4 separate regions of the Homo sapiens genome follow, and regions 2, 3 and 4 are each linked to region 1. The links come from fine-mapping of genetic effects on gene expression. A gene starts in region 1. Each other region holds a variant in brackets. All regions are shown on one strand. Distances are from middle to middle. Region 1 holds the start of NBL1 (NBL1, DAN family BMP antagonist). Region 2 has its middle 8.4 kb from the start of CAPZB. Region 3 holds the start of LOC124904816 (small nucleolar RNA U13). Region 4 overlaps TMCO4 (transmembrane and coiled-coil domains 4).

Region 1 (5,000 bases):
CACCCAGGTCAGGCCCCGGCTCTGGTCAGCCCAACCGGGTTTCCTGGGCTCACTCTGGGGTTTGAGGATGAGTTCTGGCCAAAGCTCATACATTGGCTTTCTGTGTGCCTGGAGTCAGGAGAGTCTAATGGTTATAGCTCGAGCCACTGACCATTTGCTTCCCCCCTCAGCTTCACGTTTGCATCTGTAAAATGGGCAGCCTGGCCTGGGAACGTCCATTTCAGCAGATCCCCCAGGGAGGAGCCTGGCTCCAGCATACTGCTTAAGGCCGCTGTGATTCCACGACCCCAGTCTCACGGCAGGGTGGCTTTTCCTTCCTTCCTTCAGCACTGGGGAGAGCATGAGTCAACTGTCCAGAGGGCGGACACACAGGGCCGACCCCGTGCCACCCAGGCCTGCCTGCATCTTCCAGCCCTGACCACCTCTGTGCCAGCCCCCAAACCCAGGCCACGGCCCTCCTTACCGCAGACCCTCCTGCCCGCAAACGAAAAACAGTCTCCAAAACAAATCCATGCTAATGAGCTGCTGCAGGGCCAGGCTGCACATCTGCTCAGCAGAAGTTCCACTGCAGACCTCACCAACAACCCTGCCCGCTCCGGCAGCCTCCGACCCTTGAGGTTGTGGGTGGGGGGAAGCAGCTAAACTCAGCCTGAAATTTCACTTTAAAATAATGAGGCGATATCCCTGGCCGATGCAGAACACCTACTCCCCTGTCCACCCCTCCAAAACACAGGCCCGGGAGAGAGGTCCAGCTTGCAGGGGTGGGTGGAGAGGGGTAGGGGTCACCGAGGAAACGCTGCAGCCTCGCCTTTTCTTTGGCCCCAACTCAAGGCAAACCACGCCCAAGCAGCCCCAGCATCTGGGGGAGTCTAGGGAGGCCCCATTCCGCAGTAACAAAGGGTGAGGGGCTCCTTGTTGACAAATTGCTTCCCCGCCAGCGCCCGGTCTTTGGCCTCCAGCCCTGACCTCTGTTTTCCTGGGGTGCCCCTAGTTACAGGCTGGTGGCGTCCAGCTTGGGGAGCGAGGGCCTCCGAAAGCCTGGAAGTGTGGCTTTCTCCCTTGATGCCCGCCAACCTCCGGCCACGCCAAGGCAGGCGGCTGCCCCCTTTGCCGCCGCTTGTAAACGATCAGAATCGCCCCGCCCTGGGAGCGGGCCGGGCAGGTGGCCCGCAGCAGGGCCTGTCGTCCAGCCGGCCTCGCGGGGGTGGAATTCTTAAGAAAACTGAGCCCCCGGAAAGGCTGGCTCTCCCTGCCCCAGACTCAATTCCAGGGAGATGACCCGGGCCAGGCCTCGGGGCCGGCGGGAGGCAGGGGGAGGGTTTGCCGCACCCGGTCTAGGAAACTATTCGTGAACCCCGCTGGGGGAAGGCGAGCCTCCGACACTGGGGGATTGTCTGGATCGGAGGGCGGGGGATCAGGGAGAGGCGCAGACACAGGGCGAGACCCCCACAGAGGGCAGCGCAGAGACAGAGAGAGGGAGAGAAAAGCCAGAGGCAGAGACACAAACGCGGGCAGCCGAACACGGAGGCAGGCGGGGAACGGAAAGAGACGGGCAGACCAGGGGAAAGTGAGCGGCGGAAACGGAGCGACGGAGAGACAGACACACGGACGTGGGGACCGAAGCAGAGGGGGCCGCGGGAGGCGGAAACGTCCAGAGCCGAGAGGCGCGGCGCGGCGAGGCCCGGGCACGGCCGGGGGACATGCGAGCCCGGCCCGCCCGGCCACGCATCTCCCTCCCTCGCTCCCTCTCTCCCCCGGCCGCGGAAACTCCGATCCAGAAACGGAACCCTGGGGCGAGTCTGGGGACGGGCTCCGGACGCGGCGGTGCCCCCCGGCCACCCCGTGCCGCGCCCACGTCCCCAGCGCCGGCGTCCGGAGGCGCCCGCCAGGTCCCCCAGGGCTCCTGAGCTCGGCGGCGGCGCCTCCACCCGGTGCCCGCGGCCGCCGGACGCGCCGGGGGACGCAGCTCCGGGCTGGGGGCGCGGCACTGCCCCCGCGGCCGAAGCCTCTGGAAGCCGGGCGCCCGCGTGCCGACCCGGGCGGGACTTACCGCGCGCGCCCGCCGGTCCTGCGGAGCTGGGTGCGGGGGTCGCGGGCCCGGGCGCCCCAGGAGGCTCGGCGAGGCGGCCGGCAGGGCGGGGGGCGGCCCCGCGACGCTCGGCTGGGCTGCGCTGCGCGCTGTCTGCGGCCCCGGGCGGGCGCGCGGCGCGGGGGAGCGGCTCCGACGTCAGGGTGGCTCCCTCCAAACAGGGCGCGAGGGCGGGGGCAGCGGGGAGGGCCGCGCGCAGAAAGAGCGGGCGGGCGCGCGCGGCCTCTCCCTCCGGGTGCGCAGGAGGGGGCGCCGCGGCGGCAGGGGCCCCGGGCCCTCTCCTGGCCCGCCCGCCCCGGGCTGAGCTTCGGCGCGCTCCGACGGCGTGGTGGGGCGGCCGGGACGCCTGGCCGGCGCCCGAGAGGCAGGGCAGCCCAGCCGGGCGCCCTGGCCCGTTCTTAAGCGCCCTCCCCGGGTTTCTCTGCGCTTCCACTCTCTCCGCCCGACTTTTACCGAGCCTGGGCCGTCAGGCCGTGCCAGGCCTCGGGGTGACAAAGATGGATGTGTCCTTTTTGTGGGCACCGGGCATTGCAGACTTGCCCCGAGAGTGGGGCGCCCCAGCCCGCCGCGTCCCGGCACCAGGAGTCCCCAGTTCTGCGGTGCACCTCATCCCGTCCGCTCCGGCATGCGACCCGGTTCAAGTCCGTGCTGTTGGTAGCCTGGGTTGCTCAGCCTTGCCTAGTGTTATCCTAGTGTCGCTCTCGGCCCCACGCCCTTGGCTTAAGCATCCCGAAAAGCCCCAGGGACTTATTAGGAACTAAAAAGCCAGCAAATGAACTCACTTCTCTGACTCCTGGGAAGAGTGGAGCTCCTGGCCCCAGCTTCCAGCCTCACCTCGGGGGTTCCTATCTAATCAGTGGGCACTTGGGTGGATTGCGGCCGTACCTTCTCTATTCTGTGTGCTTAACAACGGGGTGAGAAAATAACTTTGCTTCTGGAAAGTGGTGGCCCAGGGACACCACTGGGACACGATTGTAGGACTTGGGGATTTTGCTTTACAGCATAGTTACCTGTGTCCATGTGTTTTACCTAGCTTGGCTGGAAACTTCCAGATAGACACAGCCCTGCTTGTCTGACTCATGAGGTTGCCGGGCATCCTGGGTGGCTCCTAGTGGCCTGCTGGGAACTCCCTGGTGTACTCCAGCCTACTCGCACCCTCCACACCCAGCCTGCATCTGCGCCTCCTAGCTGTTGCCTGCGCCCTTCCCTCTGCCCGGAATTCCCTTCCCCTCCTTTCATCTCTGGCAAACATTCTTCCAGCTCCAGATTGGAAAGCCTTCCCAAGACCCTTTGGGAGCATCTCCCTCCTCCAGTGTGATCCTGGAGCACAGGATGAGAACTTCTGTTCATGTCAATTTCCCTCTAGAATAACTGTGTACATCTCTTGGGCAAACATTCTTCCAGCTCCAGATTGGAAAGCCTTCCCAAGACCCTCTGGGAGCATCTCCCTCCTCCAGTGTGATCCTGGAGCACAGGATGAGAACTTCTGTTCATGTCAATTTCCCTCTAGAATAGCTGTGTACATCTCTTTCCTCCATTAGACCTTGAGGGCAGGAATCGTGTTTATTTCAGTGTCTCCATTGCTTATGGGCAGGCCAGGTGAGATGTACAATGTATTTGGTTGAATGAAGTTGTTGTTGTTGTTGTTGTTGTTGTTATTATTATTATTATTAGAGACAGAATTTTGCTCTTGTTGCCCTGGCTGAAATGCAATGGCGTGATCTCGGCTCACTGCAACCTCTGCCTCCCAGGTTCCAGCAATTCTCAGCCTCCCGAGTAGCTGGGATTACAGACGCCCACCACCACGCCCAGCTAGTTTTTGTATTTTTAGTAGAGATGGGGTTTTGCCATGTTGCCCAGGCTGGTCTCCAACTCCTGGCCTCAAGTGATCCTCCCGCCTCAGCCTCCCAAAGTGTTGGGATTATAGGCATGAACCACCACGCCCAGCGAATAAAGTAATTATTATCCCCCATTAATGTAGCACAGATAGGTCTTCCCTTAATGGTAACTATGACCGTTATAATAGTTCACACATATTGAGCACCTTACCATGTGCCTCATCCCATTGCAAGCTGTTGCCACTCTCACAATAAACCTATGAGGTAAGTATTGTCTCTGTTTTAAAAGTGCCAGGCGCAGTGGCTCATGCTTGTAATCCCAGCACTTTGGGAGGCCAAGGCAGGAGGATCACTTGAGGTCAGGAGTTCGAGACCAGCCTGGCCAATATGGCGAAACCCTCTCTCTACTAAAAATACAAAAATCAGCCAGGTGTGGTGGCGTGTGCCTGTAGTCCCAGCTACTCGGGAGGCTGAGGCAGGAGAATCACTTGAACCTGAGAGGCGGAGGTTGCAGTGAGCCGAGATCGCACCACTGCACTCCAGCCTGGGAGGCAGAGTGAGACTCCATCTCAAATAAATAAATAAATAAACAAACAAACAAATAAAATAATAAAAGTGAAAAAAATCCCGAGGCTGGAGGATCACTTGATCCCAGGAGTTTGAGGCTGCAGTGAGCTATGATTGTGCCACTGTACTCCAGCCTGGACAACATTGCAGAAGGCTAATTGTGGAACCTAATGAGCTTGTCACTCCAGCAAGGCCTTGTCTCAAAAAAAAAAAAAAAAAGTGAAAAAAGGAACGTCAAGAGAAAGGTTAAGTAACTCGCCTAAAGTCACACAGTAAGAGCCCATGCCAGCTAGTGTCTGTTGGATAACTATATACCATGTACGGCAGAAACCAGCCTCACTGCACTGTACACAGTAGACACTCAGGAAATATTTACCATTTTGCAGCCAAAGCTTACCCCCGCCATCTTTCATGCAGACCCCGAGCAGGGTAGAAAGTAGAGTTCTACATTTTGTAAGAATCCACTCCCACATTGCAGAAAGCTAATTGTGGAGCCTGATGAGCTG
Region 2 (8,147 bases), 150 kb after region 1:
AGGCAGAGAATTGCTTGAACCCAGGAGGTGGAGGTTGCAATGAGCCAAGATTGCACCACTGCACTCCAGACTGGGCAACAGAGCGAGACTCCATCCCAAAAAAAAAAAAAAAAAAAAGATTGTTCTACTATCATGGGATTTCCGTATACATTTTAGAATCAGGCCAGGCACAGTGGCTCATACCTGTAATCCCAGCACTCTGGGAGGCTGAGGATTGCTTGAGCCCAAGAGTTCAAGACCAGCCTGGGTAACATAGTGAGACCTCATCTTTACTAAAAATAATTGTAAAAATTAGCCACGTGTGGTGCCATGTGCCTGTAGTCCCAGCTGTTTGGGAGGCTGAGGTGAGACGATTGCTTGAGCCTGGGAGGTCAAGGCTGTAGTGAGCAATGATTGCACCACTGCTCTCCAGCCTGGGTGACAGAGTGAGACACTGACTCAAAAAAAAAAAAAAAAAAAAGAATCAGTTTGTGAGTTTATATACAAAAACTTGCCGGGATTGTGATTTTAATTGCATTGAATTTATGGTACATTTTCAGGAGAATGAACATCTTGATGATATTGAATCTTCCAATCCATAAATAGGGTACATCTTATTGATCTAGATTTTTAATTTATCTTGGCAATGTTTTCTTGTTTTCAGGCCTTGTACATCTTTCATTAAATATATCCTGAGTGGCCGGGCACGGTGGTTCACGCCTGTAATCCCAGCACTTTGGGAGGCCGAGGTGGGCGGATCAACTGAGGTCGGGAGTTCAAGACCAGCCTGACCAACATGGAGAAACCCCGTCTCTACTAAAAATACAAAATTAGCCGGGCATGGTGGCACATGCCTATAATCCCAGCTACTAGGGAGGCTGAGGCAGGAGAAATCATTTGAACCTGGGAGGCGGAGGTTGCGGTGAGCCGAGATCATGCCATTGCACTCCAGCCTGGGCAACAAGAGTGAAACTCCATCTCAAAAAAAAAAAATATATATATATCTATATCTCCTGAGTATTTTATATTTTTTGATATTATTATAAAGATATTTAAATTTATTTTACAATTGTTCATTGCTCTGATCTTTTATTCCAGCCTTTCACTAGATTTTTCTCAAGTCCTACCACTTTATCAGGTCCTATGTCAGTTCTGCATGTAGTTTAGCTTCATTTGGAACACTGCAGTGTCTGACTGGAATGAGAGATGAGGATTTTGGAGAAGTAGAGGATGGCTGAGGTTTGCATCCTGGATGACTGGAGGTTCTCTGGCTCACAATTTGACAGGCTTCATTCATATTGTGCCATATCCCAGGTTCCATGCTAATTGTTAGTGATATGACTCACAGTCCCTGCCTCAAGGAGCCATAGCGCAGTAGGGACCAAGTGAAAAGTGATCTGATAAGGTACACAAAGTAGAAGTTTCCATGGCAACACAGAACAGGGGGTCCCAAACCCAGCTTTTGAGGGGACTGTCAGAGATATTACCAGGATAAGAGGGTGATTATGCTGAATCTAAAGGAAGAGTCAGCATTAGACACATTGTAGAGTCCAGCCCAACCCTGGTGGGTGACTGGCTGGCCAGCTTAATACACTAAACGTGAAGTTTCCCAAATATGCATATAAAAACTCCAACAGCTGGCCTGCATGTGAGAGGCCCTTCCATAACTCTGACCAAGACCCCGTAGATGGTCAGGATACAAATACTTCTGGTCCAGCAGAAGGCAGCTGTGAGTTCTCCCAGGTACCTATTAGAAAAGCAAAAGCAAAAACCCTGAGATGATTGTGTCTAACCTCAGAGTAAAGTATCCTCTTGGCACTGAAGACTTTGGGGATGCATTAAAAAGAAGTGGATTGCTAGTGGTCTGTCCACCTCCCTGCTCCCTGCTACATGTACTTTCAAGATGCTGAAGGCTGGAAAAAGTTGATCTAAGCTGTCTAGCTGAGGCTGCCTCCTCTACAAACCACACAATTTTCTGTCTTCAAAGGAAATCAGCATTTTTTTTTTTTGGCCTGTACTCAGTCCTGCTTAAGGTTTCAATGACTAGAAATTTCTGAGACCACAAATAAGTCTGTTTCATTCACTTGCCAGAGCTTACTCAGGATGCCCGTAATGCCCATCTGTTTCTTTCTTTCCTTCTCTCTACTTTTCAGCAGCCCTTCTCCTTCTTTTGGTAACAGTATCCTGATTTCCCCCATCATCAGGGAAACAGTTTCCCTCCCTGATCATCAGGTCCCCATCTGCCAGCTCCAGGGCTGAGGCCACTGGTAACTGAAGAAATGAACATGGCTGAAATTGCCTAAGGAAAAAGGGCAAAGTTAGAGAAGGAAAGAACCTGCTACCAAATCTCAAGGAACTCCATCGTTTAGTAGGTGTGTGGAGGAGAAGGAGTCTCCAGAGAACCCAGAGAAGGAGCGTAGAGGTAGGATTAAGACTAGGAGAGTCACATGATGTCATGGAAGCCAATGGGAAAGAGTGCTTCAAGGAGGGAGGACGTGGCCAAAGCACCAGAGGCTACTGGGAAGTTACAGGAGGTGAAGTTTGAAAACTGTGCATGTGGCCCGGCAAGGTGGCTCATGCCTGTGATCCCAGCACTATGGGAGGCTGGGAAGGGAGGAGTGCTTCGTGCTTCAGCCCAGGAGTTTGAGACCAGCCCGGGCAACAAAACGAGACCCTGTCTCAAAAAAAAAAAAAAAAAAAAATTTAAAAGAAAGTTGTGCATGTGACCTTCAACATGAAGGTTATGGGTGACCTCAGAGCTATTTCAGTGGAGGAGTTACGTAAGCGAATGGGAGGTTAGGAAGTGGAAGGAGGAAACACAGACAATTCTCCAGCTGGGAAAGGGAGGAGGTGGCGGTAAGCTGGAGAAGATGAGGAATTCACGTAGGTTTCTTTCTTTAAAAAAAAAAAAATCAGAACACTTAGGCATGTTTAAAACCACAGTAATCATTAGTTGAACAATCTGGGGAGAGACAGGATAATTGAAGTGTAAGGTTCTTGAGAAAATAAAATCCCCAAGAGGGAATATTGTTTACAGGATTTCCCAAACTTACTTGGTGAACTGCCCCTCTTCAGGCCGAGTTCATTTTGATTACTGTTCCGCAGAAAGCACCCTGGCCCAAATTAGGTCAGGGGCTGATCTGCAAACCAATTAGCATGGCCAAGGCTATACTTTGACTTTGGTCAATCAGAATCCTCTCTTCTAGAGCTGGGGGTGGGCTGAACCCCACCCAAACTAAATGTCTGAAAATGAGACAGGGTTAAGTTGTAGGAAAGAGACGGTATTCATACCTGGGAGGTACCCCAGCAGTGACCTCGAAGCCAACTGAATGATGGTGCAGATGGCCTTGCCATGTGGTGTTCCCTCCCTCTTGGAACTCTTGGTAACAAAGATTCTTTTTTTTTTTTTTGAGACAGAGTCTCTGTGGTCACCCAGGCTGGAGTGCAGTGGCGTGATCTCAGCTCACTGAAACCTCTGCCTCACAGGTTCAAGCAATTCTCATGCCTCGACCTCCTGAGTAGCTGAGATTACAGGTGCACACCACTACGCTCAGCTAGTTTAAGTATTTTAGTAGAGATGGGGTTTCACCATGTTGGCCAGGCTGGTCTCGAACTCATGACCTCAGGTGATCCGCCCACCTCAGCCTTCCAAAGTTCTGGGATTATAGGCATGAGCCACCATGCCCGGCCGGTAACAAAGATTCTTAAATTGAATCCCATTGAAACTTCAGTATATGGAGTTAGGATGTTCAGGCAATACGGCTAGCTGTAGAATTCAGTGTATTGAGGGGTTAAAATCTGGCTTATTCTAAGGGTTCTCAGGCATTTCTAAAGACACGGTAAAACACCTAAAACCGTGTTAGTAACTTGAGAAGATGCCCAACTTAGGAAACAGGCCCAGACCTGTTAGACGGGAGGTAATTTAGGAGCTAGGCAATCCCCAGCTCCTGGGATAACTGTGCATTTATTAACCCAATTAATAGATGTAATTGAAGAAGGAAAGACAGATGTTGGGCAACTTCTGGGCAATGTCTGCTTTAATGGGTCCTGTATGAGCTGATTTGGCATAGGGTAGAAGGCTGTCTTTCAAGGACCTCAAGGTTGCTGCTTCCTTCCTCAGGTGATGGTATTATATGGCTTGGGGCTTCCCTTCCACCTTGCCTCAATTCAGAAAATGCTTATGGGCACCTACTATGTGTAATTGCCATTCTATGTGCCGGGATGTGGTAGCACTGCCTTTTGCAGCTTACAAAGCCCTTTCCTACCTATGATCTCAATCTGGTGATTCTGAGAACAGATTTTGAGTCAGGAAGACCAAAGTGAGAATAAATCCATCCACGTATTATGTGTGACTTTAGGCAAGTCATTTCATCTAAGACCCAACTTCTTCTATAAATTGGTAATAATAAAAGTTCTGGCCAGGCATGGTGGCTCACACCTATAATCCCAGCACTTTGGGAGGCTGAGGTGGGGGGATCGCTTGAGCCCAGGAGTTTGAGAGCAGCCTGGGCAACATGGCAAAAATCTGTCTCTACAAAAAATATAAAAATTAGCCAGCAGTGGTGGCTCACACCTGTGGTACCAGCTACATAGGTGGCTGAGTTGGGAGGATTGCTTGAGCCTGGGAGGCGGAGGTTGCAGTAAGTCGAGATTGTGCCATTGCATTCCAACCTGAGACCCTGTCTCCAAAAAAAAAAAAAAAAAAAAAAAAAGTTCCTAACTCAAAGGATGGTTGGGAGGAGTCTATAATACACAAAAAGTGCTTAGCACATAGCAAGTACTCATGAAAAAGTAGCTGTATTATTCATTCTTTGTTTATTCACACAATAATCTTATCCTGTTGATACTATTATCTTCATTCACATACCTTCATTGAGCACTGATTATGTTCTAGGTGAACACCTAGGTCCATAATGACCAAAAGAGGACTCAGATGCAGAAGAACAAGGGTCCCAGAACTAAGCCTTCAGGAAAGGAAGAACCATCAAAGGAAACTCAGGGGAAACTTGAGCACCAGGAGAAGGCTTCCTTTCCACCTTGCCTCCAATCAGGAAATGCTTATGGGCCCCTACTATGTGTAACTGCCATGCTATGTGCTGGGATGTGGTAGCCTTACTGATCTCAGGCAAGCCAAGAGAGGTACATGAAGGAGGAGAAGCCAGGAGTAAGATGAGTCCCCAAAGTGAGCACTGGCTTCTGCAACATCGAGTTCCCAGGTCAGCTTGAGGAGAGCAATGTCTCTTCCTGGGCAGGTGGGGGCAGAGGCCTGATCAGACTGACTGGAGGAGAAAATGGAGCAGGTGTGGAATCAACAACTGCAAAGAATTTACAAGGTTTTGGTGTGAATGAGAGCAGAAAAATGGGGGAAGTGGCTACAGGGAGACGCAGGATCCAGGAGTTTTGAGTGGTGGTTCTTAAAACTTTTTTTTTTTTATGATAGGAGCTATTAGAGCATGTTTTCTGAAGCAGATAGGAATGATCCAGTACCAAGGGAGAAACTGGTGACTAAGGAAGGAAGGATCCAGAGAACAAGTGGAGGGGTGACTCTGATAGGAACAAAAACGCTTCATTTATTGTAAAATCTGGGGAGTCAAAGATTGCGGGGAAGGTGCAGAGATGTTGGTAGATGATAAGCTCCTGTCTGGTTCCATTATTTCTGTGAAGTGTGAGGCAAGGCCATCTGCTTAGAGAGAAGGATGCAAAGGGGACAAAGGAAGCTTGAGGAGGAAGAAGGATGAAAAATCACCATTTAAGAGTGTGAGCAGGGGGCTACAGTGGAGTAATACAGTAGAATTGCTAGGCAGGCTTGAGGGCTCGTTTGAAATTTGTGGACCTCACCTTAAAGGAAGAGCAATCACTTTCAACTTTCCAGCAATGTTCAGATGGTTTTGTTGTTGTTGTTGTTTTGTTTTTTGAGACGGAGTTTCACTATGTCACCCCGGCTGGAGTGCAGTGGCGTGATATTGGCTCACTGCAACCTCTGCCTCCCGGGTTCAAGCGATTCTCCTGTCTCAGCTTCCTGAGTAGCTGAGATTACAGGCGCCCACCACCATGCCTGGATGATTTTGTATGTTTAGTAAAGA[T/C]AGTGTTTCCCCATATTGGCCAGGCTGGTCTCAAACTCTTGGCCTCAAGTGATCTGCCCATCTCAGCCTCCCAAAGCGCTGGGATTACAGACATGAGCCACCTTGCCCAGCCAATGTTCAGATGTTCTGATGAAAAAAGGTGGAGGTAAAAGGGTTCTGGGCTTTTGTAAGGGAGTTAGTATCATACTCATTACTAAGCTGGGTCAGGTGGGATGTGAGCATGAAGGGGAAGGTAATTGTGAAAATCTGGCAGGGACAAAGGTTTGCAGGTCTTGATGAGGTTGAAGAAATAATGAGGTTGAGGAAATGCTTTTGTGGTGATACTATGGTAAGCGGGTTAGACTCAGATTTGAGATCTTTGTGACTGTGATTTCTTTTCTTTTTTGGAGACTGGGTCTCACTCTGTTGCCCAGGCTGGAGTGCAGTGGCACAAACACAGCTTACTGCAGCCTCAACCTCCTGGGCTCAAGAGGTTCTCCCACCTCAGCCTTCCAAGTAGCTGGGACCACAGGTACATGACACCATGCCTGGCTAATTAAAAAAAAAAATCTTTATAGAAATGGGGTCTTGCCATGTTGCCCATGCTGGTCTCAAAATCCTGGGCTTAGCCTCCCAAAGTGTTAGGATTATAGGTATGAGCCACCATGCCTGGCCAGTGTGATTGTGATTTCTGAGATAGTGCAGTTAAAGGCGAGAACAGGCCAGGGTAAGACCACAGGAGTGGGACCTGGAGAGAGGCAAAGGAAACTGATTGGTAGGGAAGAAATCAGGGAGAAGTCAGTAAGATTTCTGGTGGATTATGCTTATGGATGCTGAAGTCCTAAAGAAAGTGTAGAAGGGGAGATGGAGGTAAGTTCATGAAAGCTAAAAAAAAAAAAAAAAGGGTGTGGCAGGTGGAAAAATATCACAGTATGAACTTCAAGGGGGTTAGGGTCTTTAAAAGAGGATGAGACGAGAAACATTGCTAAAGATATTTATGGCCTGGATGTTGTGGCTCACACCTGATATCCCAACACTTTGGGAGGCCAAGGCAGGAGAATCACTTGGGCCCAGGAGTTCAAGATCAGTCTGACCAACATGGTGAGATCCCGTCCCTATTTAAATTATAAAGTTATTATTTATTTATTTATTTATTTATTTATTTATTTATTTATTTGGATACGAGGGTCTCACTCTGTTGTGCAGGTTGGAATGCAGTGGTGCAATCATGGCTCACTGCAGCCTTAATCTCCTGGGCTGAAGGAATCTTCCTGCCTCAGCCTCCTGTGTAGCTGGGACCAGTGGCATGTGCCACCATGCCTAATTATTTGACTTTTTTATAGAGACGGGGTCTCACTTTGTCAGTGAGGTCTCGAACTCCTGGGTTTAAGCAATACTCCCACCTAGGCTTCCAAAGTGCTGGGATTACAGGCGTGAGCTACCATGCTTGGCCAAAAAATTTTAAAATAAACAAAATTTATAGTGCCTGCATACCAATTCACAACCCCTTGTAGATGACCATGTTTAATGCCATGTGTCTCCATGCTCATAGCAATAGCTGATGGATCTAGGGGCAGGATCTGAGCAGTGGGCAGCCAATCTGTGGAGTGACCTGTCCAGTGAATGAACTTTCCTTCAGGCTTGGCCTCCATCCCTTGGTATCCAAGAAGGACACCACCTTTTCTTGGTCCTGTTCCTGCCTCGCGGGTCATTCCTTCTCAGTCTTTCTGCTGGTTCCTCTTTATCTTCATGACCTCTTCTCTCTACATTCACCCACAAAGTGAGTTCACCAAGATGTCTGTGCTTTCAAGTATCTTTACATGCCATTTACTAGCTGACAGTTCTCATAAGTTTATCACAGCTCTAACTTCTTCCCCCAACTCCAAACTTCCATATCTAATTACTTATTTGATATCTCCATTTATTTATTTTTATTTTTATTTTTTGAGATGGAGTATCACTCTGTTACCCAGCCTGGAGTGCAGTGGTGCAATCTCTGCTCACTGCATCCTCCACCTCTGGGTTCAAGTGATTCTCCTGGCTCAGCCTCCTGAGTAGCTGGGATTACAGGCATGTGCCACCATGCCCACCTAATTTTGGTATTTT
Region 3 (8,147 bases), 110 kb after region 1:
AAAATTAGTCAGGCGTGATGGTGCATGCCAGTAGTCCCAGCTACTCAGGAGGCTGAGGTGGGAGGATCACTTGCTGAGCCCAGGAAGTTGACGCTGCAGTGGGCTGTGATCATGCCACTGTACTCTGGCCTGGGCAACAGAGCAAGACTCTGTCTCAAAAAAAAAAAAAAAAGAAAAGAAAAGAAAAAAGAAGAGGCCAGGCAAGGTGGCTCACATCTGTAATCCCACCACTTTGGGAGGCCGAGGCAGGAGGGTCGCTTGAGCTCAGGAGTTCGAGACCAGCTTGGGCAACACAGCGAAAACCTATCTTTACTAAAACTTCAATAGAAATACAAAAATTAGCCAGGCATAGTGACGTGCGCCTACAGTCCCAGCTACTCAGGAGGCTGAGGCTGGAGAATTGCTTGAGTCCGGGAGGTGGAGGTTGCAGTGCGCTGAGATCCCACAACTGCACTCCAGCCTAGGTGATGGGAGTGAAACCTTGTCTCAAATAAAAAAAATTTTTAAAAAAAGGGAGAAGAAGAAAGACAATAGCAAATAAGCAAATGAAAAGATGTTCATCATTGTATGTCATCAGGGAATTGCAAATCAAAACAACAATGAGATATCACTACATATCTGTGAAAACAGCTAAAATCCGAAGCACTGATAATGCAAGTGAGGACGCAGAGCAACAAAAACTTTTTTTTTGAGATGGAGTCTCGCTCTGTCGCCCAGGCTGGAATGCAGTGGCACCATCTGGGCTCACTGCAACCTCTGCTTCCTGGGTTCAAGCGATTCTCCTGCCTCAGCCTCCTGAGTAGCTGGGATTACAGGCGTGCACCACCATGCCTGACTAATTTTTGTATTTTTAGTAGAGATGGGGTTTCACCATGTTGGTCAGGCTGGTCTCGAACTCCTGACCTCATGATCCACCCGCCTTGGCCTCCCAAAGTGCTGGGATGACAGGCATGAGCCATTGCACCTGACCTCAAAAATTTTCATTCATTGCTGTTGGGTATACAAATGGTACAGACAATTTGGAGGACAACTTGGCAGTTTCTTACAAAGCTAAACATAGTCTTACCATATGATACAGCAATCACACTGCTAGGTATTTACTCAAATATGGTGAAAACATGTCCACACAAAAACCTGCACATGAATAGCAGCTTTATTCATAATCGCCAAAACTCGGAAGCAACCAAGATGTCCTTTGACAGGTAAAGAGATGAACAAACTGGCACATCCACACAATGGAATATTAATTCAGTGATAAAAATAAATGAGCTACTGGCCGGGCGCAGTGGCTCATGCCTGTAATCCCAGAGCTTTGGGAGGCCAAGGTGGGCGGATCACCTGAAGTCAGAAGTTCGAGACCAGCCTGGGTAACATGGCAAAACACTGTCTCTACAAAAAATACAAAAACTAGCCAGATATGGTGGTGTGCACCTATAGCCCCAGCTACTTGGGAGGTCGAGGTGGGAGAATGGCTTGAGCCCAGGAGGCGGAGGTTGCAGTGAGCTGAGATCTCACCACTGCACTCCTGTCTGGGTGACAGAGCAAGACCTTGTCCCGCTGGGTGCGGTGGCTCACGCCTGTAATTCCAGCACTTTGGGAGGCCAAGGCCGGGGTGGGGAGGGGCGGATCACCTGAGTTCGGAAGTTCGAGACCAGCCTGACCAACATGGAGAAACCCCATCTCTACTAAAAATACAAAATTAGCCGAGCGTGATGGTACACACCTGTAATCTCAGCTACTCGGGAGGCTGAGGCAGGAGAATATCTTGAACCCAGGAGGCAGAGGTTGCAGTGAGCAGAGATCACGCCACTGCACTCCAGCCTGGGCAACAAGAGCAAGACTCCGTCTCAAAAAAAAAAAAAAATATATATATATATATATACACACACATATTATATATAAAATTAGCTGAGAGTGGTGGTGCGTGCCTGTAATACCAGCAATTCGGGAGGCTGAGGCAAGAGAATCGCTTGAACCCAGGAGGCGGAGGTTGCTGTGAGCCGAGATCGCACCACTGCACTCCAGCCTAGGCGATAGAGTGAGACTGTCTCAAAAAATAAAAAGAAAGAAAGAAAAAAAGAAATTATGTTCCTTCTGCCTCACATCCAATTGATAGCTTGGCTGGGAATAAAATTCTATGTTAATGATATTTTTCACTCTTAATAAATTCCCTTTCTAATTAAGTCAACTAGAGCTGACTTTTGAGTATTTTGAAGATACCATTTGTTGTTGTTTTTTGCCTTCTAGTTTCTAATGTTATTATTTAGAAGTTCAAGGCCATTCTAATTCACATATTTTTTAAAAAACAATTTTATTGATGTATAATTAATACACCCCAAGTCTTTTTTTTTTTTTTTTTTTTTTTTTGAGACAGGATCTCACTGTGTTACCCAGGCTGGAGTGCAGTGGTGCAATCACAGCTCAACTGCATCCTCCACCTCCCAGGCTCAAGTGATCCTCCCATCTCAGCCTCCCCAGTAGTTGTGACCACAGGTGTGAGCTACCATGCTTGGCTAATTTTTGTTTTTGTTTTTGTAGAGATGGGGTTTCCCCATGTTGCCCGGTCTGATGTTTGAAGTCCTAGGCTCAAGCGATCCACCTACCACGGCCCAAAGTGCCAGGATTATAGGCATAAGTCAGCGCACCTAGCCATACCCCAAGTCTTTAGATGTGGCATTCTTTTAGGTTTCCTCCTCTCTCTCTCTGAAATCTTGTTAGGTTCTTCTCTACCTCTCCTACCTCTAGCCCAATGGCCACAAGTTTCCTGGGGCTATTCCTCCCACATCAAAACACAGTTCTCCATACTCCGTAAGGTTTAAGGAATCATAATTATAGAATGTCCCTGCTTCTTTCATTCAGCCAGTGATTTATTGAGCATGTACTGGACAATTGCTGGACAATTGGCTGAACTGTCTTCTAAGTCTGGGTTTATAATGGGTCAAAAACACAGGGCTCCTAACCTCAGTGGAGCTTATATTACAGCAAAGAAATTTTGCTACTTTTTTTTCTTTTTTTTGCGATAGAGTTTCATTCTTGTTGCCCAGGCTGGAGTGCAGTGGCACAATCATGGCTCACTACAGCTTTGATCTCCTGGGCTCAAGTGATTCTCCCATCTCAGCCTCCTGTGTAGCTTGGACTACAGGTGTGCACCCCACAGGCCTGGCTAATTTTGTTCATTTTTTTTTTGTAAAGATGGGGTCTCACTATGTTGCCCAGGCTGGTCTTGAACTCCTGGACTCAAGTGATTCTCAAGCCTTGGCCTCCCAAAGTGCTGGGATTACAGGCGTAAGCCACCACATCTGGCCTGACATACTATATTTGTTTACTTGTCATGTTTACGGTCTGTCTTTCTTCATTAGCATGTAAGTTTCCCAGTGGCAGGGATTTGCATGCCTTTCATTCCTGTCTCTTCAGCACCAAGTACGGTGTGTGGCACATAGTAGGTGTTTCATAAGCACTTGCTGAGTGAATAGGTAGCTCTGTGTGGGAAATAGTTTGGTATATTTGTGCAACAGTAGAAGGCCAGTGGATGGGACAAGGGAGCAAGTCAGTGGGGCAGGAGGGGAGCTTGGAGGGGTGGTCAGGGGGCAGACACACAGGCTGCTAGGCCATGGAAATGAGGGTGGATTTAAACAATAATAGAAGACCTTGCAGGGGTTTTAAGTAGCAGAGTGACATTATCTAATTTGTATTTTTAAAGGGTCACAATGGCTGCCTTGTTAGGCCCGAATGTAGGGGTCCAGAGTAGTAAGTAAGGGGTAGAAAAGAATCAACCAGCCAGGCATGGTGGCTCACACCTGTAATCCCAGCTACTCAGGAGACCAAGGTGGGAGGATCGTTTGAGGCTGAGAGTTTGAGAACAGCCTAGGCAACACAGTGACACCTTGTTTCTAAAAAAAAAAATAATAATTAAAATATTAGCCAGGCATGGTGGTGGCATGCACTTGTAGTCCCAACTACTCAAGAGGTTGAAGTGGGAGAATCGCTTGAGTCTAGGAGCTCAAGGCTGCAGTGAGCCATGATTGCACCACTGTACTCCAGCCTGGGTGCCAGAGTAAGACCCTGTCTCAAAAAAAAAAAAAAAAAAGAAAGGAAAGGAAAAGGGCAGGCACAATGGCTCACACCTGTAATCCTAGCACTTTGGGAGGCCAAGAAGGGAGGATTACTTCGGCCAAAGAAGGAGGATCATTTGAGCCCAGGAGTTCAATACCAGCCTGGGCAACATAGTAAGACCT[T/C]GTCTCTGTAAGATAAAATAAAATAAAAAAAGAAAGAGAAATTAAAAGAAAAGAGCCACCCAGTTAGGAAGCTACTGCAGTAGTCTAGGCAAGAAAAGATGTTGGCTGAGATCCAGGTGAGGGCAAGAGCAGATGGAGAGAAGCAGCCAGAATGCAGACTCCACAAGAAATCTGCACTTCATCCTGTCGCGGGATCCTCGCCACACACTGGGTGTGGGTTTATAGACCTCTTTTAGTGATACCTCTTCTAATATCAAATCCAGTTTGGCAGTTAGTGTTCCAGCTAGACTCTACAAGGGATCGGAGGAGGCTAAATTAGATCCTGCCAGCCAGGTCTCAGAAGCTATGACCAAGAATGCAGAGGAATCCCTGCCCCAGCCTTCAAAGTCCTCCAGCCAGGAAATACCCTTCCCTGTACTTGGCTCCTGGCTGATAAGCCTTGTTATTCCCTGGATCTATCCCATCCTCTCCATCTCCAAGGCCACTTCCAGACCCTCATCACACTTGGCTGCACAAGTGATGGCAGCGTCCCTCTTCACTGGCCTCTCTGCTTCCAGTCTTCAAATCCACCCTCCCCAGGGTTGACTGAATGAACATCCTAAAACCCAAACCTAATGGAGTCCCTTTTCTGCTCAAAACCTTTCAGTGACTGCCCATCACGTCCAAGATGAAACGCTAGCTCTGTATCGTGGGATGCAAGACTCTCCTCCGCTGGACACTTCCTTCTCCTCCAGCTACGCTTCCTGCCCCTCCCACTTCACTCCCACTTGACCCCCAGCCTCACCCAGCACTTGGTGCTCCTCCTTCCACTTCCTGCCTTGCTGGTGAGGCCTGGCTTAGTCTCTTCCCTCTGCCTAGGTAACTGTTCCCAGCCTCTGTTGTGTGGTTACTTCTCTCGCCTCACAATTAGCTCAGGAAACACTGCCTCCAAGAGTCCAGGAACCCTCCCTTGGCCTCCCCTGTCTTGTGCCCCCAGTTCACCTGGCGTGGCAGTACACCTCTGCTGCTGCTCTGGGGTTTTTTTGTTTTTTATTTTTTTGAGACAGGTTCTCATTCTGGTCGCCCTGGCTGGAGTGCAGTGGTGCAATCTCAGCTCACCTCAGCCTTGACCTCCCGGGCTCAAGCGATCCTCCTCAGCCTCCCAAGTAGCTGGGACTACAGGCGTGTGCCACCATGCCCAACTAATTTCTGTATTTTTTTTTTTTGAGACAGGGTCTTGCCATGTTGCCCAGGCTGGTCTCAAACTCCTGGGCTCAAGCAATCTGCCCGCATCAGCCTCCCAAAGTGCTGGGATTACAGGCAAGAGCCGCTGCACCTGGCCAAGTGAATGCAGCAGCTACTGCTCTGAACTGTTGTTACTAATTGGTTTGCTTGTCTTCCCCAACTGGACCATGAACTCCCCAAGGGCAAGGACCTTGGCTACTCATCTTTGTGTGCTGGCCTTGTCTACAGTGACTGGTGCATAGCACATGCTTGGTTAAAGACTGTTGAACTGGCTGGCCTTAGCCACACCGCCATACCCTTAGGACAGCCTGGCTAAGGTCCTCGTGGTGAAACAGAGAGAGCTAGCCAGCCCATCTTATTTATTTATTTATTTTATTTTTATTACAGATGGGGTTTCACCATGTTGGTCAAGCTGGTCTCAAACTCCTGGCCTCAAGTGATCCGCCTGTCTTGGCCTCCCAAAGTGCTGGGATTACAGGCATGAGCCACTGCACCTGGCCAGCTTGTCTTTTTCAGCCCTGAGCTGATGAGGCTGTCAAATGTCAACCTCAACGCTCTTCCCAGCCTCTCTTTTCCACCTCAGGCAGAGTTTGTCTTCAGATGCAAAGGCCTATAAGTCTTCTCTCCAGTTAGTGCTGAGACTTCGCCAGCCACAGAAGGGATTCTGACATCGCATCCAAATAAGGTGAAAGGATTAGCTGTTGTTAAAACAGTGTGAGAGCTGTGAGTAAGGAAATATTCTCTCTGAGATGGGCCCTGCTGAAATATACAACACGAGCCTTCCAAATATGAGCTACTGACTGGAAAGAAGCCTGCTTGTTATGGAGCCTGAATCTTCCTCCCCAGCCAGGGATCTGGTGATGCCAATCCCGCTGAGGTCTGGTGTTCATCGGAGGTCAGGATGCAGCCCACCTGAGACCTTAAGGGGTAGGGGGTCCTTCATTAGTTAGCAGGCATGGTTTAGTAACAGTAACATCACCAATAATGTGTGGGATTCAGGGTTTCTGAATAGTGCTAACATAATATGGAGAATGAACAGTCCGAAGTCTCCATGAGGAAGGATTGATAGAAAAGAATTCGTTCAACAACCTTTTATCAAGAATAGTCATATAAGATCCTTTTGCAGTTCATGAGCATGATGATTGGGTGTTTATGTGTATGTGTGAGATCTGCCACTCTCTGAACCTTGTTACAACATTGTCACATTACCCGTCTAACCTGAAAAAAAAAAAAAAGTCATATATGGGCCAGGCATGGTGGCTCACACCTGTAATCCCAGCACTTTGGGAGGCCAAGGTGGGCAGATTGCTTGAGTTCAGGAGTTCAAGACCAGTCTGGGCAACATAAGGAGACCCTGTCTCTACCAAAAAATATAAAAAATTAGCCACGGGTAGTGGTGCACAACTGTGGTCCCAGCTACTCAGGTGGCTGAGGCAAGAGTATCGCTTGAACCTGGGAGGTTGAGGCTGCAGTGAGCTGTGATCATGCCACTGCACTCCAACCTGGGTGGCAGAGTGAGACCCTGTCTCAAAAAGAAAAAAAAAAGTCATACAAAATGTATAACTTATCTATTGCTGTGTAACAAATTATCCCTAAGCACAGCAGCTTAAAGCAATATTTATTTATCTCACAGTTTCTGTGGGTCAGGAAATTGGGAGTGGTTCTGCTGAGTGGTTCTTATTCCTGGTTGCATGAGAGTTTGCAGTCAAATCATCAGCTGGGGCTGCCATCATCTGAAGGCTTGACTGGGGCTGGAGGACCTGCCTCCATGATGGCTCATTCACACAGCTATTGGCAGAAGGTCTCAGTTCCTCATGACATGACCCCTCGCTAGAGCTGCTTGAGAGTGCTCATGACATGGCAGCAGCCCTCTGCAGGAGCAGGCAATCTGAGAGAGAGAGAGAGAGACCAAGACAGAAGCCTCAAGGTCTTTTGTGACCTTGGTCTTGGAAGTTGTACACTGTCACTTCCACTTTATTCTGTTTGTTACAAATGAGTTACTAAATTCAGTTCACAGTCAAGAGGAAGGGAAATAGGGTCCACCTTTTGAAGGAAGTGTCAAATTGTGGACATATCTTAAACCACCTCATCAAATCAAAAAGAAACAAGAAACCTGAAAGTCTTGAGGCTGCTAAAACTCCTGCTGCCATTAGGACAATGGGAATTTAGTATGAAGAAAAGAGTCCTAGATTGACAGTGATAGCAAGATTCATTCACTAATTCATCCATCCATTCATTCATCCACTCATTCAACAGCTATTAATTGACCATTACTGTGTGCAGTTGGAAAACTCTATTATATGCTACAGGGCTCAAGAACAAACACCATTATAATTAAAATAACCATTGCTAGCTGGGCACAGTGGTTCATGTCTGTAATCCCAGCACTGGGAGGCCAAGGCGGAAGGATCGCTTGAGCTCAGGAGTTTGCGACCAGCCTGGGCAACATGGTGAAATCCTATCTCTACAAAAAATAAAAAAATTACCCAGATGTAGTGGTGTGTGCCTGTAGTCCCAGCTACTAGGGAGACTGAGGTGGGAGGACCATGAGCCTCGGAGGCAGAGGCTTCAGTGAGCCAAGATTGCATCACTGCACTCCAGCCTGGGTGACAAAGTGAGATCCTGTCTCAATAATAATAATAATAATAATAACAACAACAATTGCTGGCCTTTATCTAGCACTTACTG
Region 4 (8,147 bases), 43 kb before region 1:
CCAGTTCACTTGTATCTTCACCCCTAAACTTCCAGGGCCTTAAGACAAAATTCCTAACCCACCAGAGGATCACAAATGAAGCCACCCTGTGCCTTCCTAACTGGGAGCTTTGGGGACTGGGGTAGAATAAGAGTCATTTCTAGGCTCATCCATTTATGAAACTGGTTGCTCCTGGTTAAAGAGTCTTCACAGGGGCCGGGTGCAGTGACTCACGCCTGTAATCCCAGCACTTTGGGAGGCCAAGGCGGGCAGATCACGAGGTCAGGAGATCGAGACCATCCTGGCTAACACAGTGAAACTCCGTCTCTACTAAAAATACAAAAAATTAGCCAGGTGTGGCGGTGGGCACCTGTAGTCCCAGCTACTCGGGAGGCTGAGGCAGGAGAATGGCATGACCCCAGGAGGTGGAGCTTGCAGTGAGCCGAGAGGGTACCACTGCACTCCAGCCTAGGTGACAGAGCAAGACTCTGTTTCAAAAAAAAAAAAAAAAAAAAGAGTCTTCACAGATAGACTTGGCTCACATGCTGTAAACCTCGCAACTCCCTAGAGGAGGTATTAAGCATCCCCAGATCATAGATTGGGAAACTGAGACTTGGGAGCATGGAGTCATAGCCAGAGTTGTAGGTCTGGACTCTGAGCCCAGCTTGGAAGCTGTGCTGCCCACTTCTCTGTGGGAATGAGGTAAGCTGAGTCACAAGACCAGCAAACCACAGTGACAGGAATTTTCTCTCAGCCCCTTGGCCACACTTGCAGCAGGGGCACCCCATCTACTCGGTCCACCACACTCAGCCCCTTGCAGGAGGAAGCACATGAATGAGCAAGTGTGGGCTCTGGCTGACCACTCCAAACACCGACACAAGAGCAAGCTCCATGCTGGGCCTGTGGCCAGACCAGGCGTGTTGCCTCGAGGGGAAAGTGGCAGCACCTGGGCAGGGGTACCCACAACCCTGAAGCCCCAGAGGGGGCGTTAGTGTGCTAATTAGCTGTTTTAGTTCCACCATTGACGGCCCAATAGACGGTGGTGTATTAACAGCTCAGTCGGCCCCTGACCCCATCACGTGGGGCAGCTGCCCTCCACTGATGAGGGCAAAAGGCCAGTATGACAGCCTTTCTGGGTACCCACACTCAGTGGGTCCCAAGCTCTTGTCCAGCATCCAAGAAGAATGAGGACACGCTGATAATTGAAGAGTGAGCAAGGCGAGGAGTTTTATTGAGTGATGAAACAGCTTTTTGCAGAGAGGGGATGAGTGGATGGTTCCCCTACCCAAAGGCAGGAAAGTCCCCACAATGTGGCTGAGTCTGGGGCTTTTATGGGCTCAGAATAGGGGAAGTGTGGGCAAACAGGAACAGAAGTTCTCACTCTGGGTCACAGGTTTCATGTGGGACCAGCAGTCCAGTCTTTCAGCCTTCAGGCTGTTTTTTTGGCTTGAAGGTGGGGTTTCACCAGGGACCCACCCCGTCTGCCTAGGCATTTGGCTGCCTCCTGTCACCATCAACAGGGCTCAGAGCTGATGCCTCCTGACCCATGTCCAGGGCTCTCTGTCCTATTCAAGGTGCCTGCACCCTGAATGGGGTGAAAGGGAGCAGGGACTTTGTGCCTCAGCACCCCAGGAGTCTCCCTTTGCCAGAAGAATCAGAGATAAAAAGCATCTGCTGAAGAAAGTAGCTTTTAATGCTGCAAAGCCCTCACAAGATCTGATTTCTACTGGGAATGGGATATGGTAGGAAGAGCACAGCCTTTGGCACCAGAGAGGCATGGCTTAGAATCCTGGCTCTGCCACTGGTTTACTGGCTGTGTGACCTTGGGCCAGTTACTTAACCTCTCTGTGTCTCAGTGTCCTCATCTAGGAAATGGTGGAAACGCCTAACTTCCAGGGCAGCGCATGTAAGATGCTTGGTGCATAGTAGGCCCTCCTTTAATCCTAGTCCCTCCCGGCCTGCCCCTGCCACCACCCCCAGTTTGTTTGCCTCTGGGACCAGCAGTTTTGGAGACTCCGCTCCCTCCTCAGGCTGTCTTCGTGGCAGCTTCCCAGCTCCTGCCTAATAATAGCTCTTTATCACATTAGGAGTACATCACAAAAAACAGTGCTTTCCTCTTCTGGGTAATTAGAGGTAATTAGCACTGCCTTTGTGCTGGCCTCCTGTTTTCCTTGAAAATGCTTTGCTGGAGAAGTTGCTGGCAAGGGAGGTTTCATTACTGCTGTTGGGGAAATGCTGGCCACCCTCTGCTCCCAACAGAGACCCACAGGACCTGTCTTCTCCCTGCTGGGCCAACCACGCAGCAGGGCCCTTTGTGATCATCCCACTGGGCTGGCCCTGTTGCAGGCAGGGCGCATCTCTGGGGTGAATGAAGCTGCCCTCCTGCCCCTCAGTCTCTCCTCACAGGGACAAGGTTACAGTGGGTGGGGGATTTGCCACCCCAGGGACCAACTCATGAGGCTTCTGGGGCACAGAGATCCAACCCACGGCAAGATTCTCCATGTCCCAGCAGAAATGCCAGGTGGCCTAGAACTTAGCAAAAGGCTTGGCACAAAGTAGATACTTGATAATAACCGCAGTAGCCAACAACTCACATGTTTTACGGGGTAAGTCATTTGATCCTCATAGAGGTCCTGCATAGTGGTAGTAACCCGTTGTACAGGTGTGAAAACTGAGGCTGCAGGCGGTGCCACGGCATGTGAGTGGTAGAGCCGGATGAACCTGGGCTGTTAACCACTGCTTCAGTACTGCCTGCATTCACACATCTCTGTAGCTTCTGGTAGTGGCCTCTAACCCTGTGCCAATAAGCCTGTTACATGTATTATCAAAGCCACACAGCCAGCCCACGTGGTATAGGTCTCTTTATTAGCCTCATTTTATACATGAGGAAATTGAGGTCCAAGAAGTGAAAGAACCCAAAGGGGCCTGATGGGCTTGGAAGGAGTCACTGGGGCAGATGGAGGTGGGTGATGGCAGCCTCTGTTTGGGTAAGTTGGGGTGTCTTTTGAGGCAGGAAACAGGAAGGGCTGGGCCCCATTTGTACCTGC[A/G]GGGATCTGGTTCCCACGGAAACCCCACGATGTGCGGGGCTGGCTGTGGGGCACAGAGGTGAGTGAGAAGTGGTCTCTGCTCCCCTGCGCTCAGTTTATCAGGGAACGCAACCTCATGAGCATGTGACGATGACAGGTTATGAGTGCCATCACAGGGTGTCCACAGAGGCCCCTGCCAACACGGGAAGCCACGGAAGGCTTCTGCACGCCAGTCACATCCGGCGTGTATCCAGGCAGCTGGCAGATTCAATCAAGACAGCCTGGGAGATGGTCAGGGGCTGAATCTTCACGCAGTATCGGCTACACCAGAACTTTCTGGTGCTGAGAAGAGGCTCTTTCCCGACCTGCCTCACCCCTCTTCTCTCATCTCTCCAGCTAACTGTAAAACCAGAGCTCTGCCCAGCAACTGCTCCCCTGGGTCTTTGCAGAGGGGTGGCTCAGGGACTAGGGTTGCCTGAGACCCAGACCAACTTGTAGTCGAGGAGGGCCAGAGCTGTGTGTTCTAGGACAGCTCTCAGTGGAATTTCCATCTGGTATCAGCTGCAGCCAGTGGGTACCAACACCTCCCTTCCTTCCTGGCCTGTTTCTACCCAGCACTGGCACCAGCCATCTACAACATTAAAAAGGTATAGGGAGGCAGTTCTTGTTTGTCCTTAGAGAGGCAGTTATCACTTGTCCCTGTGGGTCTGAAGTTTCTGCTGGCTGGAATTCAGATGTGATGGCTGGAGCTTGAGCAGCCATCTTGGGCTCCCAAATGGATCAGCCCAGCTAACTCCCTACTCTCCATCCCCCACTCGTAGGAAACTAAGGTAAGGGAACTCATATTTACAGAGTACCTCCTGGGGTGCCAGGCACTGTGCTTCATGGTTTGTATTATTTCTTCCCAGCAACTCCTTTAGGTAGGTATCACTAACTCAAATTGCATGATGTCTCTTTAAAAGTGTTTGGGGCAGGGCATCGTGGCTCATGCCTATAGTCTCAGCAATTTAGGACGCTGAAGCAGGAGGATCTCTTGAGCCCAGGAGTTTGAGACCAGCCTGGAGAACATAAGAAGTCCCCATCTCTACATTTAAAATTTAAAAGGCCAGGTGCAGTGGCTCACGCCTGTAATCCCAAGCACTTTGGGAGGCCAAGGAAGGCGGATCACCTGAGGTTGGGAGTCCGAGACCAGCCCGGCCAACATGGTGAAATACTGTCTCTACTAAAAATACAAAAATTAGCCAGGTGTGGTGGTGCACATCTGTAATCCCAGCTACTTGGGAGGCTGAGGCACGAAAATAGCTTGCACCTGGAAGGCAGAGGTTGCAGTAATCCAAGATCATGCCATTGCACTCCAGCCTGGGCAACAGAGCAAGACTCCGTCTCAAAAAAAAAAAAAATTAAGAAAAACAAAAAGTGTTTTGGATCATATAGGAACATAATATCAAAAGCTAGCATTCTCTGAGTTCCTATGAAGTGCCAGGCCCTTGAACTCCTTATAGCAATCATTCAAGGTCATGACTCTCATTTTACAGATGGGGAAGCTGTGGTTCAGGAAATTGTGAGGACTGGCCCAGTTACTGGTAAGAGACAGAGCCAAGGCTGGTACCCCAGCTTTTCAGAGAGTCCAAACTTAGGTTCCTTCTCAGGCCCTGCAGCCACTAAATATGTGTCCTGCTGCAGAGGGGCACTGGCTGTGCCTTGACAACCACCCTGAGCCCAGGGCCCTGAAAACCACTTAGATGTGTGAATACACGTGTGTGTATTTTCCCTGGAATCTGTTTAAAAGCATTCGTGAGGAAAGGAACGAGAGGTGGGCAGATTCTAGTGGTGAGAAAATAACAAAACTGTACAGGGAATTGTCTTTTCGTGTTTTTGAAAAATCATTTGATTAATACAGTGTGATTTGCAATTCAAATGGAAATGCAGATGTTACCAGCAGTGTCTTTGTGCTGTTTTCTGAGATTCCCAACAACAGCCTCCCTGGTGTTTTTCCTGTCCTTTTTTTAAAAAGAAAGCCTTCCCCTTCAGCCTTAAAGGAAAGTCCGGTCTCATGCGCATCTTTGGCACTAAAGCAGGCCCCCTCGACTGGCTGGGTATAACGTGAGACTCCATCTCAGGGGCAGATCCAGGCTGAGCAGCTTCTGCAGGCAGCATCTCAGGCTCAGCACCAGACTGTGCTGTTCATGCGCTGTGTGTCATTAAGCAAACCGCCACCCCTCTCTGGGCTTTGCTGCCCTTCTCTGTAAAGTGAGGATGATTTTTAACCTTCCTTCCTTCCCCAGCTGATTTTCTCTGAAGAGAACAGGCTTTAGAAACAGGCCTGGATGGCCGGGCGCAGTGGCTCACGCCTGTAATCCCAGCACTTTGGGAGGCCGAGGTGGGTGGATCATGAGGTCAGGAGATCAAGACCATCCTGGCTAACACAGTGAAACCCTGTCTCTACTAAAAATACAAAAAAAATTAGCCGGGCATGGTAGCGGGCACCGTGGCAGATGCCTGTAGTCCCTGCTACTCGGGAGGCTGAGACAGGAGAATGGCATGAACCTAGGAGGCAGAGCTTAAAGTGAGCCAAGACTGCACCATTGCACTCCAGCCTGGGCAACAGAGCGAGACTCTGTCTCAAAAAAAAAAAAAAAAAAAAAGAAACAGGCCTGGATTCAAATCCCAGCCCTGCCAAGTTCTAGCTGTGTGACCTTGGGTAAGTCACTTTACCTCCGTGTGGCTCAATTTCATCTACAGTGAGCAGCCGACACCTAGCAAAGGAGTATATCCAAGAAGCTTATTTGCTGCAATGTATTAAGGACCTACTACGTGTCAGGCATTGTCCATTATTACATCTAGGCATCAGGCATTTCAATCACACCCCTACTTGTTGCTCACCAACATATCCCAACACAAAAATGGGATGAACGTATGACTCTGACGAAGGGGGTGGCCACTTCTGAGTTCTTGGCCTTTGTCTTAGTTAAGATGCAGACCCATATAACAGAGGCCCTGCTAATGTTTTTTGTCTGTTTGTTTTTTCTGGAGACAGGGTCTTGCTCTGTCGCCCAAACTGGAGTGCAGCGGCACAATCAGGGCTCACTGCAGCCTCAGCCTCCCAGGCTCAAGCCATCCTCCTACCCCAGCCTACATAGTCACTGGAATTACAGGCACACGCCACCATGCCCAGCTAATTTTTGTATTTTTTTGTAGAGACAGGGTTTCCCCATGTTGCCCAGGCTGGTCTCAAACTCCTGGGCTCAAGTGATTTTCCCACCTTGGCCTCCCAAAGTGCTGGGATTATAGAGGTGAGACACTGTGCCTGGCCTAATTGTCTTAAATACACTAGGGTTGATTCTGTCACATAAAAGAAATCAGAATAGGCCATTTAGGGCTGATGTGCCACTCCACAGTCTTCAAGGACCAAATTTCCCTCTTGCTGCTTGTTCTGCCTTCCTTAGTGGGCTGACTCATGGCCCAAGATGGCTGCTCAAGCTCTGGCCATCTCGTCTGAATTCCAGCCAGCAGGAAAGAGGACATGAGGGAAGAAGAGCACTCCTCCTCTTAAAGAGAATTCCAAGGAACACCACATCACACTACCGCTTCAACTCATGGGCCAAAACTAGTCACAGTGCTATTCCTAGCTGCAAGGAAGCCTGGGGAGTGTGCCCAGCTATAAATGTGAGTCCTTGTGACTAAAGAATAAACGGCAGAGTGAGTTGTAGCCAGCACCTTGCAGTCTATGCTGTAGCTTTCTTTCCAATTTGAGGACTTTTCCAGGGAAAATCCTCACAGCCAACCTCTGGTGAAACTACCCTTGTGTTCCCCTTTTTACAGCGGAGGAAGTTGAGAGCCAGAGGGGTAGAGGGGTAGAGGGGCTTGACCAAGGTGTCACAACTAGTGAACAGCAGAGCCCTTCTGGAGTAGCCTAGAGCTGCAGGCATCAGCTGGGCACAGTGCCTCAGGCCTGTAATCCCAGCACTTTGGGAGGCTGAGACAGCAGGATTTCTTGAGGCCAAGAGTTCAAGACCTGGGCAACATAGGAGACCCCATCTCTACAACATTTAAAAATTAGCCAGTCATGGTAGCATGCACGTGTAATCCCAGCTACTCAGGAGGCTGAGGTGGGAGAATCACTAGAGCCCAAGAGGTCAAGGCTGCAGTGAGCTATGGTTGTACCACTGCACTCCAGCCTGGACGAGAGAGAGAGAACCCATCTCTCTCTCTCTCTGTTTTCATTTTTCTTTTTTCTCATGCTATTTTAACAAAAAGCCCATCCCTTAAAAAAAAAAAAAAAAAAAAAAAAAGCTGCCGGGCACAGTGGCTCACGCCTGTAATCCCAACACTTTGGGAGGCTAAGGCCAGTGGATCACTTGAGGCCAGGAGTTCGAGACCAGCCTGGCCAATATGGTGAAACCCCTTCTCTACTAAAGATACAAAAAATTACTGGCATGGTGGCACACGCCTGTAATCCCAGCTACTCAGGAGGCTGAGGCAAGAAGATCACTTGAACCTGGGAGGTGGAGGTTGCAGTGAGCCAAGATTGCGCCACGGCACTCCAGCCTGGGCAAGAGCCTGTCTCAAAAAAAAAAAAAAAAAAAAAAAAAAAAAAGCTTCAGACAAAGAACGAGAGCTTCTACTCCACCTTTCTGTTTATCAGGAGATTCCTTCCTGCCCCAAAAGGATCCAGATTTTTTAGAGAAACATCCTTCATCTTTATTTAATAAATTCTAGAACAGCTTTGAACATAGAGCCTTCCCACCCACTCTGGATTTGAGAGCCACTGAGGGATGGAGTCATGGGTTTGGTGATTCGTTGGCTGTGGATGCTCAGGGCAAGGCTGAGGCCCAGAAGTTTGGCCGGAGGTCCCTGGGGAGGGCTGGGCTCTGCACACCCACGGTGGTGCTCACTCACTGTCTCCTGCAGGTCAGCGGCCACCTGGACTATGCCAAGCAGATGGATGCCATCCTGAAGGCCGTGGGCATCCGCACCAAGCCAGGCTGGGACGAGAAGGGGCTCTTGCTGGCCCCAGGCTGCCTGCCCTCCGAGGAGCCTCGCCAGGCAGCAGCTGCCGCCTCATCAGGCGAGACCCCCCACCAGGTTGGGCAAACCCAGGGTCCCATATCCGGAGACACCTCCAAATTGGCCATGTCCACA

Evidence for each region. PIP is the estimated chance that this variant, and not a neighbour inherited with it, causes the effect. A credible set is the group of variants that fine-mapping cannot tell apart.
Region 2: its variant is the best candidate, but not a certain one, in a credible set for the expression of NBL1 in naive CD4 T cells (Schmiedel 2018, PIP 0.74).
Region 3: its variant is the best candidate, but not a certain one, in a credible set for the expression of NBL1 in thyroid (GTEx, PIP 0.81).
Region 4: its variant is the best candidate, but not a certain one, in a credible set for the expression of NBL1 in whole blood (TOPMed, PIP 0.78).

The regions. Positions count from the first base shown.
Region 1 is chr1:19,641,497-19,646,496 of GRCh38, reverse strand. It overlaps NBL1 (NBL1, DAN family BMP antagonist), which reads right to left and starts at 2,186. Exons shown (of 4, transcript NM_005380.8): 1 at 2,051-2,186. The region is part of intron 1 of MICOS10-NBL1 (MICOS10-NBL1 readthrough); the gene reads right to left. RefSeq lists a silencer at 2,101-2,440 and an enhancer at 2,339-3,174.
Region 2 is chr1:19,489,835-19,497,981 of GRCh38, reverse strand. It overlaps a transcript of LOC105376819 not described here. Among named protein-coding and RNA genes, the nearest start is that of CAPZB, 8.4 kb to the right of the region's middle. The variant T/C (reference allele first, on the strand shown) is at 6,063.
Region 3 is chr1:19,530,701-19,538,847 of GRCh38, reverse strand. LOC124904816 (small nucleolar RNA U13) reads left to right here and starts at 6,574; the gene lies at 6,574-6,678. It overlaps LOC105376819 (a long non-coding RNA gene), which reads right to left. Exons shown (of 4, transcript XR_947020.3): 4 at 7,061-7,347. The variant T/C (reference allele first, on the strand shown) is at 4,236.
Region 4 is chr1:19,683,214-19,691,360 of GRCh38, reverse strand. It overlaps TMCO4 (transmembrane and coiled-coil domains 4), which reads left to right. Exons shown (of 16, transcript NM_181719.7): 16 at 7,917-8,147. Among named protein-coding and RNA genes, the nearest start is that of HTR6, 22 kb to the right of the region's middle. RefSeq lists an enhancer at 1,799-2,313. The variant A/G (reference allele first, on the strand shown) is at 3,027.